Linked DNA regions of Homo sapiens: region 2 is linked to region 1. The links come from fine-mapping of genetic effects on gene expression. Tissue or cell type: cerebellum. Region 1 holds a variant in brackets; the other region holds the start of a gene. All regions are shown on one strand. Distances are between the middles of the regions.

Region 1 (8,109 bases):
CATGTGAAAGTGGTATTTTTCCATGACTCTCGCCATGGGAGCTGATTAAAACAGAAGCACTCAGAATTAGCCCAGCAGTCCAAGCCAGCATCCAAACTATTTATTCCCTCTCTCCCACCCCCACCGTTTCAAGTGCCAGTCATAATTGTTATTTGATATAATGGCTCCTCAACCTACAGCTCTCACCCAACCCAAAAAGAGTTTGGTGGCTTAAGGTTTCGACCAAAGCTCCATTTCATCCTGTATAAAAGTGACTTGGAAATCCTTTTTATCCTCGATTTCTGACAAGAAAATCCAGCTAACAAGGTCATCTGAGATGCCACCAAAACAATATGCAAGGCTGGGTATGGTGGCTGATGCCTGTAATTCCAGCATTTGGGAAAGCTGAGGTAGGAGGATTGGTTGAGCTCAGTTCAAGACTAGCCTGAGCAACATAGCAAGACTCCATCTCTACAAAAAGTAGAAAAATTAGCTGAACGTGCTGGCAGCTGGTTTTTAGCATTTACAGGCCCAGCTACTCAGGAGGCTGAGGCAGGAGGATCACCTGAGCCCAGGAAGTCAGGGCTGCAGTGAGCTATAATTGCACCACTGCACTCCAGCGTGGGTGACAGACAAAGACCTTATCTCTTATAGTAAAATTAAAATATATATATATACACTATGTATCTCTTATAATAAAATTCAAAAAATATATATATATTTGCTTTATTGACTACTGCGTTCCAAGCTCTGCTGGGAGTAACTGGAGGCAAATTTTAATGCAACCCAAAGTCCCAATGCTTTATACTTGAGGATGCCTTCTCCAGTGCTTGCTGAGGAGACCTGTGAATCAGGAAAATGGCACCAGCATGCACAATCCCAAACTAAGACACTTCTGAAGATGCCAGGCCCAAAGCCATAAACATGGACCACCTTTGGTACCAAGTCATCCAGTCTTTCTTGGCATAAGCAAATGATGAGGCTTTGAATACAACTGAGCTGGCCATAAATGCTGGCTCTGCCAATGTCTAGTGATATGGACTTTGACAGTTGATTTAATACTGCTCGGAGCATCTGTGAAATGGTGACAATAATCCCTGTCCCTGTGGAGTTGTATGCAGATGAAAGGAAAGAGGATGTGAAGAGCTGCCACACAGTAGGCAAGCAGCGCTAGTTCTCCTTGCTTTCCTGTTTCACTTACTCATCATTAGACATCTGGGACAAGCAGTGACTTCTGCTGTCTTGAAGTTCACTTACTATTAATTCAAACAAGACTTCCTGACTGCAGTCTGCCCTCATTACTGGCAATGTCCTGCCTGATCTCTAAGGCAACAATCACTCATTTTGTAAATACAACCTTCTCATCTATTAGAAATTAATGAAAATTCCATGAAAACGATTTTCAGGCACTGTAGTGACATGAAACTTCAGGAACTCATTACCTTAAATGTCTCACCCAAGGAGTTGAAATATTTCAAAATCCACATGCATATAATATTAATGCAAGAGTGTATAATACGCATAGTCTTCTCCAGGGCAAGTAAGCTTTTAAAATATACTACCCCTAACTTTGTTAGAGTTTTCTTACTTGACAAGTTATTCTCTTTGCTTATTACTTTCTACCCGTGTCTTTTATCACTACTCTAGAAAAATCAAGAACAAACTATATTGGGTTGAACCCTATGAAATTCCTTATATTTGGTCATTTTTGACCTATGGGAATGACAATCTCATAAAGGTTTAACCTGCTAGAGCCAGGCCAAGGATAAAGGAAATCAGAGCAGTTCCTGAGAAAATGTGGTTGGGCTGCTCCCCTGCCCAAGGAGACCTTCGCTTTCCAAACACAAGGTCATCACATCATTGGTGATGTCTGCATTGGTTAGGTTGGGTAAACTTGACATTATTATTTGGGTTCTCTCTCCCCACTGGTAGGGCAGGTGCTAACTGAACAGATGAGTAATTATGACTGCAATAAAAGTCACTGTTGGAGGGGGTAAAACCATTATCTCCACACCCAGACTGAGGACAGCTCGCTTGGTTTGCACAGTTCTTACAACCCACAACACTGTGGGTGCCATACCCTCTTGGGGAGTTGCCATCGCATTCCGAAGCTAATGACATTAATCATTAGCCAACTCAGAAAGGTTAATGGGCGGCTCGAGGGAGAGGAATGTTTTTATGGAGTTGATGTTCCTGGGAATTGGATCAGAAGAGCATAAGGGGGCCCTGGATGGGACATGAGCATTAACAAGTCCCTCCACCCACCTCATCCCACACAGCAGGACTCTTTAGGCTCAGCAAAGTGCTTCATCCAACACTTCATGAATGAGCCAGAGGACGGGAACCAGGCACGATTCCAGATCCAGCTTCATAATCCCTTCCCAGAATATAGTTTTCTCAAAGAGTGTCTTGTAAATTAAAAATGTGTTTGCATTATTTTTATTTATTTATGTATGTATTTATTTATCGAAGACAGGGTCTTGCAATGTCACTCAGGCTGGAGTGTTGTGGTGTAATCATAGCTCACTACAGCCCTGACCTCCTGGGCTCAAGTGATCCCATCTCAGCTTCCCAAGTAGCTGGAACCACAGGCGTGCATTACCACGCCTGGCTAATTTTTCTACTTTTTGTAGAGAAAGGGTCTCACTCTGTTGCCTGGGTCAGTCTCGCACTCCTGGGCTCAAGCAATCCTCCCACCTCGGCCTCCCAAAGTGCTGGGATTACAGGTGTAAGCCACCATACTGGCAGATTTGAGAAATCTTTAACTCACCAATGGATTAGCTGTTGGGGAGTGAGGAATATCAAGGTCAGAGTAAGAGGGATTATAGCAGAGAAAATCAAACCACTGGCTGAAAACTAAACATTTCAGTTACATTGTGATTATTTCACCTACGTACATAATGAGAACCTCTAAAGACATGTAAAATATGGAATTGTTTCAACTTTTAAGTTTGCTTTTTAAAAAATGGAAGGTATCTTATAGACATAGTAATGCTTTGCACTTATCCCAGTTAGAACTAGTAAGTCCCCAGACCTCACTCACCTGTAATTACCAAAAAGATCGTGGGGCTTCGAGGTGGGGAGAGGAGTTGTTTTGTTTTTTTGAGACAGGGTCTTGCTCTATTGCCCGGCTGGTGTGCAGTGGTATAATCATAGCTCACTGCACTGCAGCCTTGAACTCCTGGGCTCAAGCAATCCTCCTTTTTTCAGCCTCACGTGTAGCTGTGACTACATGCGAGCCACCACTCCTGGTTCATTTTAAAAACAATTTTTTATGTAAAAACTGAGTCTTACCATGTGGCCCAGGCTGGTCTCAAACTCCTGGGCTCAAGCAATCCTCCTGCCTCAGCCTCCCAAAGTGCTGGGATTACAGCTGTGAGCTACTGTACCCAGCCTGTGTTTTCTTATTATCCAAATAATCATGACTTTGAGGCCCAATTCCATAACTCAAGAAAGTTATTCTTCTCCCTGCTTCTCCTTCATGAACATGTTGGAGAATTCTGGAGAGATGCTGGATGTGCCGCCCACCCATCCCAGTAGTCACTCATCCCTCCAGCCACCCTGACTCCAAGGCCGGTGCTGCAAAGCCCTGCAAGGAAATTCCCTTGAACAGGCTCAACACTGGCTTCCTCAGGCTGCTCGGCCATCCCCATGCAAGACACTCCAAGTGCAGACACAAGCTCTGCCTGTACTTCCACAATGCACAGAGAGGAGCAGCCCAACTGTTTAATAAAACTGTACTGAAGGCATGGGGCTGACACAATTACAACTCCGAGAAACATTCCCATGCTTATCAAAAGGGGTTCCTCTAGAGGGTCC[C/T]GGCTCTGAACGCCAGCCTTGGGCCTTTGGCCTAGCTCCTGGCTACCTTTTGCCTGGCTAAGCCAAGTCAGCCTCCTCTCCACCAGGCTCCAGGTCTCTTTCCCACCTCCGAATCCAGCTGGAGCCTCTCAGTCCCAGAACTAAGTGGCAGCCTTGCTCATTCCCATCCCAAGATGACTGGGAGCTTCTCCTTCCTAAAAGGGGGACCCTTCAACCACCCACCAGCTGCAATGCAGCCTCCTTGGCCCCAAACACCAGCCCCAATCACCAGTGATTCATTTCCATCTGCTGGTCTTCATAACACCACGCCTGGTGCTGTCGCCCAGATAGCCAGGGTCAAACCTGATTCCATTTCTTTTTATTTTATTTTATTTTATTTTATTTTATTTTATTTTATTTTATTTTATTTTATTTTTTGAGACAGAGTTTCACTCTTGTTGCCCAGGCTGGAGTGCAATGGCATGATCTCAGCTCACTGCAACCTCCGCCTCCTGGGTTCAAGCGATTCTCCTGCCTCAGTCTCCCAAGTAGCTGGGACTACAGGCCCCCACCACAATGCCCAGCTGATTGTTTTTGTATTTTTAGTAGAGACGGGGTTTTGCCATATTGGCCTGTCTGGACTTGAACTTCTGACCTCAAGTGATCCGCCTTTCGCGGCCTCCTAAAGTGCTGGGATTACAGGCATGAGCCACTGTGCCCGGGCAAACCTGATTCAATTTCCTTTCCCAGTCTTTCATCCAGTGTGGAGTAAAGAGAGGGTCGAGATACTTTCTGGGTTAGCTCAGGGTTTGCACTGTCCTAAAACAAATATAATCAGACAAATAGACAAAATATACATGCATTTATACATACAAACAGATATGTACACACATGTGCATGCACACACACACACACACACACACCTTCCCAAGACAGTTTCAGAGACAGTCACTAAAATCTAAATCCATATTCAAAGATGCAGCAAGGACAATGTCCCACTAAAAATGGACTCTATTTATGTTAAACAGAACACATTACTTCTCAGCCTACATTTAAAGTAACATTGAGGATGACGCTCATTACACAAATTATTGTTCTTGGACAAACTGAAGTGTTTATTCTGCTAACTTTTCCCAAAACAAAGGAAGTCACAATCGTGAATTGGTTGCTCAGCCTCTCGTAACTATGAGTAACTTTTAAGGAACAGTTCTACTGCTTTAAAAAATATTTTTCCACTGGGCATCACTACACAATGATGCAGTCATAGCTCAAAATATTTTGGAAATTCCTCCTTTGGAATTGCCTCCAGAGCCAAGAGCACATTCCTTTAGAATAGTCTCAATGGTTATAAACCTTTATACCAAGAAGAAGGTGTATTTGATTCTTAAAATAAACCAAAAATTATTTTAAAATGGAGCTGGTGAATGTAGGTGACCAAATTGGGTGACACTGCTTTGGTATACAAAATGTGGCCCTAAAACATTAGGCAAGTTTTCCTGTGCGAGTCATAAATTATCTGTGAAGGCCATTCACTAAACACACTTTAAAAATTTTTTAACGCAATACATTTTTACTCTGTACCAATCCTTGATGGGGCACAAACCCCGAAAACAACTAATTTCAATGTTAAATGGAAATATTTACAATAGTAGTATGTATGAAACCTCAAGCATCTCAGAAGAGCGGTGCACAGGAGGAGAAGAAGGGTTGGGAAGGGTCTCAGAAAAGGCTTAAGAAACATATGTCATAATAATTAGAGTTTTCGCCATGGCCATCTTGAAGGCCACAGCATTTATTTAGATATATTCATTCAGATATATTTGTTGAAGCCGTTACTCCATTGCTTTATAATCATGCTTCAGAATAAAGGAGCATGAACTTCATTTCACCCCCAGAGTTATTGTAGCAGGACCCAACAAGACATTAATTTTGCCCGTGGTTTTTGACCTTTTTTTGCTTCCTAACACACTTTCAGTTATGATCTTGGGCTTTCTTTGAGCAAAAACCTCTTGGATTCCATACACCATCGTTATTTAGGAAATCCCTTATGACTTCCAAAACATTCACATGTTTTTCCCGGAATAACATTGCACACATTTATATGCGATCACGTTTTCCTGCCCCATGTATGTTTATGAACCCCAGAGCATGTTGCTTAAGGCCAGCCCTTACCGTGTAGTGATATTGCAGCAGCTGCTGAACAGCACCCTGCTATTACAGCCCTGCATCCTGGTGAGGAAGGGAAGAACCCCAAGGATGGGCTGGGGACGTGGAGGCACACAGGCAAAGTGGGGTTCCTCCAGATGGCGTTCCATCCCAGCTCTATGACTGCCTGAGTAAAGAGTGCCTTGGGGCTTTGGGTGGCAGGTTTTACTAGTCAGGCCTCCATTTATATCTCCCCTAAAAGCCTGAAACACCAATGGCTCCTCTTGAGTTTCTCAGTCACAGTGGAGAGTGGCTCCAAGGCCCTTTCCCAGGAAAATTCAGAAGGGGTAATGACCTCAGAGTTTTCACCTGTGGCACCGGCCTGAGTTTCTCATGAGGCACCGGACTGTCATTTCTCATCAAAATCGTCTCTTGAACTTCTAAAGTAAACACCAGGAGGAAAAGGAATGAAATGGCTTTGCAACTGTGGAAATTGTACTATGTCCGGTCTACAGGGTGAAATGAGTTGCTATTTCACTAGGCCAGGTACCTATACCCTTATGAATCAAACAGCAAAAGAGGTGAAAAGGAACTTTAGCCACGTCTAAATTTCACCTAGACCCACTGTTTTATACTTTTCTTTGACTTGCTCTATAAATATTTTACTACAACTTTCAAAGTTTATAGGGTCCTTAAGACTTGTAAAAGGGTTGAGTAACTAGAAACCAATGACTGATACCTACCACAGGGATCTTGATTTTTTTTCTTCTTCTTCTTAAGATTCCATGGAACAGATTTCATTCTACCCAGGATTCCTTGAAAGGTGGCTTGAAACTCATCTCTCAATTGAAGTCATGAATCTGCAGGGGACAAAGAAAAATGGCATCCACATATCAACTCTAATTGATTTGGGGGCACTCTCCAGAGAGTCAGGAATCTGGTTTAGGTCCCAGACCTATAGCTTCCAGGGCTCAGACTCCTCAGAAGCTAAGGGTATGTGCCCCGATGACCTGGATCCCTGGTGCTGGCATCACATCCAGATTCCCCAAAGCAGAGAGGGCCCAGTCACCTGGTCCTACTGCATTCTGGGAATGACAGACATGCCACTGGTTTTAAAAGGATGTATTTCCAATGGACCCTTCACCAAGTTGCAAATTTTAATTGTATAATAGAGAAATATGCATGAGTGTCTTCTGGTTTCCAGCGACTTGAGTTTTGTTGGTTATTGAACTAATTATCCTGATTCCTAAATCCCATAAAAGTACATAGGACTATAGTTATCAGTCTAGGCAAAATTAATTCACTTGTACATTTGGATACATTTGTTCTAATGACTGAATCGTGTATCTCTTTTCTTCAAAAATACAGAGTTTGGCCAGTGCACGGCAGCTCACACCTGTAATCCTGGCACTTTAGGAGGCTGAACTGAGAGGATCACTTGTGTCAAGGTGTTCCAGACCAGCCTGGGCAACATATCAAGACCTCGTCTCTGCAAAACGTTTTAAACTTAGCTGGGCATGGTGGCACACACTTGTAGTCTTATCTACTCTAGAGGCTAAGGCTGGAGGAACAGTTGAGCCCAGGAGGTTGAGGCTGCAATGAGCTATGATACCCCAATATGATTGCCCCACTGGGTGACAGAATGAAAGTCTGTCTAAAAAATTTTTTAGAAATAAGAATAATACAGGTTTATAGATCAAAATGTGGCTCCTGAAATATTAGTTTTGAGCTTCAATTCAATAAGAAAGCCATCGTATTAGTCCATTCTCGCACTGCTATAAAGAAGTACCTGAGACTGTGTAATTTATAAAGGAAAGAGGTTTGATTGACTCACAGTTCCAAAAGGCTGGGGAGGCCTCAGGAAACTTACAATCATGGTGGAAGGTGAAGGGAAAGCAAGGACCTTCTTCACATGGCAGCAGGAGAGAGAAGTCCAAGCTGAGGAGATGCCATATGCTTATAAAACCATCAGATCTCGTGAAGAGTCACTCCTGTCATAAGAACAGCATGGGGAAAACCACCCCCATGATCCAATCACCTCCTACCAGACCCCGCCCTCCACACATGGGGATTATGGGAATTACAATTCTAGATGAGATTTGGGTGGGGACACGGGGCCAAACTATATCAGCCATACAGGAAGGGAGCGTGAGAAGCTGAAGGTTATGGTTCTTATGCTTTCTAAGT
Region 2 (8,109 bases), 610 kb after region 1:
CAGGGGTGGGGACAGATGTCCTCATACGGAATGCCTGTGGAAGGGATGGTGGCAGATCGAGGTTTGCCATCTGCTTCCCTTCACGCCTCTGTCCTGCTTGTTCTGCAAGCTGGTCTCATCTGAGCCCAGAGCAGCAGGCTAGTTCACTGACACTCATAGATTTGGCAGGAGCATTTGCTCTTTGAATACATTGATGTCAGGAGGTACACTTCAGATAGGGAAACAGGAAATTACTAGAAGACCTGAACAAGAATGGCAACTTGAAACTGGAACACACAAGGGTACTGGGTGTCTGGAAGCCAACTGAAGTAGAAAGATTTCCAGAGAATGTGGGAAATTACCATCCAAGCCTTCGGCCTTGGCCTCTAGGTCTCCAGTTTACTATAAACAGCAGGTGAAGACTTTCAGTAACTAGAAAGGAAGCCTCATTGACTGGCGATTGAAAATGTCAGGGGTGCAATGAATGCGTGTCTGGTAATCTGCCCAGTGTGTCTTCTCTGGGAAACCTCTGCTCATAAACAGGGATGGGCCCTGGCAGCCATACTGGTCCCCTGCAGCCCCCATCATCTATGATTAGGGTTAGGGTTAGGCAGGTGATTTAGTCCTTGTGGGTGCAGCTCTGGAACATCATTTCTCTGACACTGGGACATAGGAGCCAGGGGCTGGTTATCAGAATAGGAGAATAGAGCACAGGTGTAGAGAGAGCACCTGCTATGGAAAAAAATTCCATTGAGTTCCTCCTGGCTTTTCAGGTCTGCGATCTGGGTCTTCCTGAGGACTAACTTATTTTTGCCTTTGGGTTCTATTATACATCTATCTAATCTATCAATCAACGATCTATTATCTATCTATCAACTATCTATTATCTATCATCTATCTATCAACTATCTATTATCTATCATCTCTCTCTCTCTCTCTATCTATCTATCATCTATTTTAGAGACAGGGTCTTACTCTGTTGCCCAGGCTGGAACGCAGTGGCAAAATCTCTGTTCACTGCAGCCTAGAACTCCTGGCCTCAAGCAATCCTCCCACCTCAGCCTCCCGAGTAGCTAGGACTACAGCTGCACACCACCAAACCTGGCTAATTTTTAAATTTTTTGTAAAGATGTCTTGCTATGTTGCTCAGGCTGGTGTTGATTTCCTGGCCTCAAGTAATCTTTCCACCTTGGCCTCCAAAGTTGTTGAGATTATGGGCATGGGCTACTGTATGCAGCCTCTTCTGTCTATCTAATGAATTTCTGTCCTCTATTAGGGTGAAGAGATAGCTTTTCAGTGGCTTTGAAGCATTGTGCCAAATATTTCAAAGATCACATTTTAAAATCTACTTTTTGATTTATTTAGTTGCTGCAAATTTTGACTTATCTGTCACTAATCAGCTGGATGTACTGAGATACTTTGACATTTCCTAATGTCTGGTGCTTTCTCTTTCTGGCCCTCCATAGTGAGGGCTGGATCTCTTCCCTTATAGGTATCTGCTAATGCTGGAGGCTCAACTGATAAAGTAAAGATAGCCATCCCAAGAAGCAGGCGGAAAGGCTGGGGCTAATAGAACAGATCTCTACTCCAGGGGCTTCAATTCTGCCCTAGTTCTGGTCAAATAGGATTAATACTGCTCACCGTTACTATCCTAAAAGGGCTGTCATGGTTGAAAGTGGGCATTTACTATTTTCAGTGTCTTTTGTTGCTGGAATAAAGGAGATGATAATATGAAACAAAAATCAGGTTGCTTCTCCTCATATTTTGCTCAGCTCCCAAGCATTCAGAATGTCGTTACTAATTAGACATTTGTTTCAACATTCTGGGGCCATCCAGGCTAGGCAATCTTGTGATGTGGGGAAAGTTGACTGGTTATGCAATGGCTTTGCATTAGATCCCCTGCTCCCTTGCAGGCGCTGAATGCTCTTCTGTTGTTCTCTGGATCTAGAACCCTGTCCCTTTTCTCTGGGATGGCTCCTACTGATGTTTCAGCTTATTCCTCATTTGCTGCAGGACAGTCTCCTTGGCCCCATAGTACTCTTGATTTCCCCATCACCTGTGCAGTAATAGTTTCTCTATAGATCCACCAGTCTTGTCTTATTCATTGTTATATCCACAGATCTAACCTATTTCTAGTAAACAGTAGGTTCTTCCTAGATCCATTCCTGATGATTGGCTTAATGAATGAATGCTCATTTTACTGGTGACTCTGAAAAAGGAAAAAAAAAAATAATGATTTTACTCCACTATCAGCAACTCGATGTTGCCCGTCAGGAATCCTTGTAACAAAATACAAAGTTACCATTGCCTACGAGGTCCTCACCTCCTTCTCCAACCTGTCTAGTAGCACTCTCCTTATGCACCATGATACCCATGCTGGCTTTCTCTCTGTTCCTGCTATACATCACTTTTCTTCCTACTTCAAGTCCTTTGTTCTTGCTATTTTATCTGCCCTGGAGTTTTGCTAAGTTGGTGTTTTCTTATTTAGGTGGTGCCTCAAATCTTAGAGCATTTCTCTTAGATCATTTCTCCTTAAAGCATTTTTCTCCTTTCCCAAAATTAAGTGTGTCTCCCATCCCTCTGGTCACTGTTTTCTTCTTTGCCCTGATCCCGGTCTGGAAGTTTATCTTTTTATTGGATCATTGTCCATCTTCTGATAAAAACAGCTGCAAGTCTGTCTTGTTCAAGGCTATACTCTGAGTGCTTAGTAGAAAGCCTCGTTCATTGCAGTATCTAGTATTTGATGATTAATATTGATTACGTTTGATGAGTAAATGAATAAAAGAATAATCTTAGACATACATTATTTAATCCCAGTGAAAGAATGTTAGTGATGGAATTTCAGGTGTTATTGTAGAAGAAACTTTTGAAGGGTATTCCCTACAGTTTGTTCATACTAGGCTAAGTTCCTCTTCTTTTCCTTACACAATGTAAAAATATTAGATCTCAAAACTATTTGCTCAAAGTACTTACTTTAGGACACGTATTTTTAGACTACAGTTTAGAATTACAGTTATTATTAGAAAGGTTTGGTAAAAACTCTTTTTGTTAGGCAATAAGGTTATTCTGTCCTCCAAAGACCTTTACTTTATTCTCAGGAAGTAAGAGAGAAAAAAGAATTTCTTGTCTTCTTTCTATCAGGTGTTTTGCCCTTACTTCTCTTTAAGTTTATGTTTACCTTAACATTCCTTTCCTTCCTCAGGTTTGCTTTTTGTCTATCTCCATTTTTCACTATTACGTAATTCACGGAGTTGCTGGGGGGAAGTGCTTAATTTCAAATAGCCTGTTTTAGAACTTTGCGAGAATGACAAGAACAAACAGAATGTTAAGGCAGCTAGAGAGAGTTAAGTGAGAGTGGTCCCTAGGTGAGAAATGCTTCTTGCCTTCTAGGCTGACACCAGTTCTGGGGGATGTGTTCTGAGAGCTCATATTAACTGCAGGTCATTGATCCTTATCTCAATCCCCTTCCTCTCCCTTCAGCTTTCCATTCAAAGTCTCTATCACATCTTGAAGTGTTGTCACATTATTTTTTTTCTGATGATTCCCTCCATCAGCTGAGCTTTCCAATTTATATTACCTGATTTTTTTTTGTCTTCTGCTTTTTACTACCCCTTTTTCTAAAGCTTTATTGATTGTGTACTTTGGATTCTAATTCTTCCTATAAGAGTCTTCCTGTAATTCTGTTTGCAGTGTAGTGCTGTCCACATTATGTGTTGGTTACATGATAGGAAGGAGTATGGGGGCACCTCGGTCACATATGTAAAGTTCTTTAAGAGAGCTGAAGGGCGCTGATACCAGTTCATGTTTTTTCGGGGTAGCCCTCAGATATTAAGCATGTTTACTGTATTTTCTTCTATTGTGAAAGAATCAGTTCTCTGGATTTCCTTAAAGTTTGTCTTTACCATTCTCCGCACCCTACTCATTTTTCTATTTAAGAATTTTTTTTTCTAATCATGTAGTACATGTTCAATATGGAACACAAAAAGGTAATAAGAAAAAGTCACCTACAGTGTCGCCAAAGGTGAAAACACCTTATGTCTTTTTTCGTGCATAACAATATCCCTCTCAATCTTATGCAGCATTTTTAAACCTAGGAGACTTGTCTGAATCCAAAGGAAGTTAAAGATTACGTTATTCACCAAGTTCATACTGAAATCAGAGAATCGCAGCGGCTTAAGAAAACTCGCATCTGGCGAATGAACCTGCGTATCCGGGGTTCTCCTCAGGGAGGTTGCTCGTCCATGAAACACACTCCAGTCTGCAGCCACCTGGGAGTGGGAACCAAGGGCGAGCGAACCGGGCGGGCAGGGGTGGAACTTGCGGGGACTGCGGGTATGAGGAGGAGCTACAGAGCTGTCACCAATCAGAGCCCAGCTTTGTTTTCTCTTGCCGACCAATGAGGGAGTTCTGCTGGAGAGGCGTCTTCAAGTCTGAGACGCCTATCGCCTTCGCAGCCTATCAGCAGGCCCCTCTTACCCGCGGGCGGTGCAGCCCCGCCCCGCCCCTCCAACCGCGGTCCCGCCCCTCCGAGGGTGGGGGCCGTGTTGGTTACTAGCCGGGCTGGAGGCGGGGGCCGGGCTCCCACTGGGCTCGTGCGTTCTGCGCCCGCCGCGGCGGTGCCGAGCCCGCTGGCTCCCGATTGTCCTCTGCGGCGGTGGCGGTCGCTGCCTCCTTGCCTCCGGGCCCGGGGCTGCAGGGGCCAGAGCGAGTGCGCCTCCTGCCCGCGGACCGCGGCAGCCCAGAGCAGGTAATGGGGCGCCTCTGGGGAGCGCCTGTCGGAGCCCAGGGCTAGGCTCGGGCGGTGGGGTCGGCCCCCGAAGCTGCTCCCTGCGCCGGCGACCGGGCCGAGCGGTGCCGCGGTCCTCCGGAGCCTCCTGCCGGCCTCTAGGCGCCTCAGCCTGGGAGCCCGCGGCGGGCACCTTGTGAGGAGGTGGGGGCGGGGCCGGGGCAGGGGCGGGGCCGCCTCGGGCGGGACCCTGAGGACCCCTGGAGACCCCTGTTGACGCGCGGGACTCCGGGCGGGGGCGGCGGCGGGGCAGACCCAGAGCGGGGAGAACCGACAGGTGGAGGAAAAACTGCGGAGTTGAGTCAGAGTCCGGCTCCCCGGGGAAAAGAACCGACTGAAAGGGAGCGATAAGCTGGCTGGCTTCTTTTTTTTCTTTCCCTAAGCCAGAAAGGCGTCTTCACTTGGGTCGTGTTAATTACATGTTTTCTGAGAACAGGCGTTTGGCCGTGTAATCTACACGATAGCATTATTTATTTACTTATTTGCTATTTAAAAAATTAAAAGCAGCATTTAGCGTGAATCTATTTGGGGGCTTTTTCTTAAGTGACAGGTAGACCCAGCCGAGTAACTCAGCTTTGTCTGGGCTGAAGTGGGGAGCGGTGAGGTAGGAATGAGGGGGAGGAGTGTTCGTGAGGAATGCCTGTGCAGGTTTGAAAGGATTGTGGGGGTGGGACCTTGTTTCTGTCACTGTGCCATGGGTGGGAGTAGAATTGTGATTTTTTTCTTTTTCTAATTTTTAAAAGCAATATTCACATTTAAAAAAGGGGGGGCTCTCTAAAAACAGTCTCTGTACTCGAGGCTTTGGGGATGCACCTGCTAGTCAGGCAGTAATAGTTTGCAGGTAAATCCTGGGCTATTAATTACGTAATTTGATTTACTTATAAAGAAGTATCTTGAATTGTTGCTGCCTTTCCTTTGACTTGCTCAATATATTGCTTGTTTACAAGTGAATTGATGAAGGTCACTGAGTTTTAGCGGTAATGTCACAGCGATGGCCCTTGGAGAGTTTTCTATGCTCAGGTTCACTCTGGTTCTATAAAAACAGTATTTCCATTTAATCGTGAAGCTCATAGCACTCTATCAATTATATAGTATGCCATCCTCCTACTCTTCTGAGGCAGGCTGTGCATAGCATGTCCATTTTACAGGTATGTCAACTGAAAGCCCTAGAAATGAAAGGAATCCTGCCCCACTTTACTCCTACTTTATTTTATACCTATAATGGATTTAATCCAAAATCTGGGTAAGATTCCCGCCATCAAGCCAACTTCTGCATACCAATTTGATCCCGTATACACAGGTCAGAGGTGGAGATGGTTATTTTCAAGTAAAGAAATATTATCTGCGAGGTTTTTCTTTCCATTCAGGTTGCTTAGCTAGTTTGAATTTCAGGTGAAAGGTAATTTTCCACACAGGCAAAACAAACAAAAGTTAGGAATGCTGTGTGAAAATCTCTATTTTAAATTTTGGGAAGCTTTCCAAATTAGAGAACCTTATTTGTGTTTGCATCTCTAGCTCAGCATTGAATTTCGGTACCTTTTTTTGAATTGAATAGAAATAATTGATATGCAGAAGGAAAATACTAATGAAGTGTAATGCATTTTGATCATGACTTATGACTTTGTTTCGGGAAGTGTTTACTGTAAATTTATAGACGGATTGAAGAATAATTTCTTAATTAGAATAACTTGACCAAAGGAGTTTGGGCATTAGTGTGGGACAGGCTGAAATGGGTAGTTGGGAGTAGCCGCTTGTATGATGTTAAGGCTTAGGGAATTCTAGAGAATCGTTAGGTTTTGTTAAATTTACTAGTTATCAGGAACATGAAAATGTCTTATGGATTACTGAATGGAACTCTTTTTTTTTTTTTTTCTGAGGTGGAGTCTCACTCTGTTGTCCAGGCTGGAGTGCTGTGGCTCACTGTGATCTCTGCCTCCCTGGTTCAAGTGATTCTCCTGCCTCAGCCTCTTGAGTAGCTGGGACTACAGGCGCATGCCACCACGCCCAGCTATTTTTTTTTTTTTAATATTTTTGTAGAGATGGGGTTTCACTATGTTGGCCAGGCTGGTCTCGAACTCCTGACCTCAAGTGATCTGCCTGCCTTGGCCTCCCAAAGTGCTGGGATTACAGGCGTGAGCCATTGCACCCAGCCTGAATGTAACTGTTCTAATCATGAAGTTATCTCTTGTTTTGTGGCTAATACCTCTGTTTCACATGTACATTTTAACATATTCATGTAACATATAAGGCAACTCTTCTTACACAAGGCTGTCACTCTAGCCCAGCATTTATTTACTTATTTATGTTTTAGTGGCTTTATTTAACTTTTACTCTCCTGTCAAAATTTCTAGCACCCAAGCAAAAATTTCCATAAAGGAACTTTTATCATCTGTTGATTATACAGAAAATGAATCATTTATTCTCATAAGCCCAGCCCTCTTGCATTGTGGGACACTGGAAAGATATTTTGGCTGTTTGTAAAGTATTTGCTTGTATTCTTACCTGAAGCTTTGACTTCTCCCCCTCCCCCAATGGTTTTCAGAGTTTCTGTGACTTTTTTCTTTAAATTAATTATGACACTACCTGACTTCCACTAGATGGTGCACTGGGGGGCGCTTACTGGAGATTTCAAACAGATTTTTGTTTTTCCTTGTTATAAACATTTCACTGACAAAGATACAAAGGTACTGCAGCTGTTTCTCTCCTAATTGCAATTCAGACAAAATTGTAATGAATGACTTAAGTCTTGAGTTTTGGCCAGGCATGGTGGCTCACGCCTGTAATCCCAGCACTTTGGGAGGCCGAGGCGGGCGGATCACAAGGTCAGGAGATTGAGACCATCCTGGCTAACACGGTGAAACCCTGTCTCTACTAAAAAATAGAAAAAATTAGCCGGGCGTGGTGGTGGGCGCCTGTAATCCCAGCTACTCGGGAGGCTGAGGCAGGAGAATTGGCCTGAACCCAAGAGGCAGAGCTTGCAGTAAGCTGAGATCGTGCCACTGCACTCCAGCCTGGGCCACAGAGCGAGACTCCGTCTCAAAAAAAAAAAAAAAAAGTCTTGAATTTTGTTAAATGAGATACATTCGGAAGGAAAGGGTATTCCTTCATTTTGAATTTAAAGTGAAGGAAATTGTTAGTCAGGCTTGCTCTCTGAAGATACTGTGTTTTTTACAAACTGAAGGTTCGTTGGCAACCCTGCAAGTCGATTGGTGCTATTTTTCCAATAGTGTATGTTCATTTTGTGTGTCTCTGTCATATTTTGGTAATTCTCACAATATTGCAAACTTTTCATTGTTATTCTGTCTGTTATGGTGATCTCTGGTCAGTGATCTTTGATGTTACGA

Evidence for each region. PIP is the estimated chance that this variant, and not a neighbour inherited with it, causes the effect.
Region 2: MPP7 starts here. The variant in region 1 is fine-mapped to the expression of MPP7 in cerebellum (GTEx, PIP 0.97).

The regions. Positions count from the first base shown.
Region 1 is chr10:28,908,037-28,916,145 of GRCh38, reverse strand. No RefSeq gene overlaps it. Among named protein-coding and RNA genes, the nearest start is that of C10orf126, 66 kb to the right of the region's middle. The variant C/T (reference allele first, on the strand shown) is at 3,799.
Region 2 is chr10:28,299,478-28,307,586 of GRCh38, reverse strand. MPP7 (MAGUK p55 scaffold protein 7) reads left to right here and starts at 4,523. Exons shown (of 17, transcript NM_001318170.2): 1 at 4,523-4,726. MPP7-DT (MPP7 divergent transcript) reads right to left here and starts at 4,418. Exons shown (of 2, transcript XR_930772.3): 1 at 3,158-4,418; 2 at 1,316-2,188. RefSeq lists a silencer at 4,337-4,976.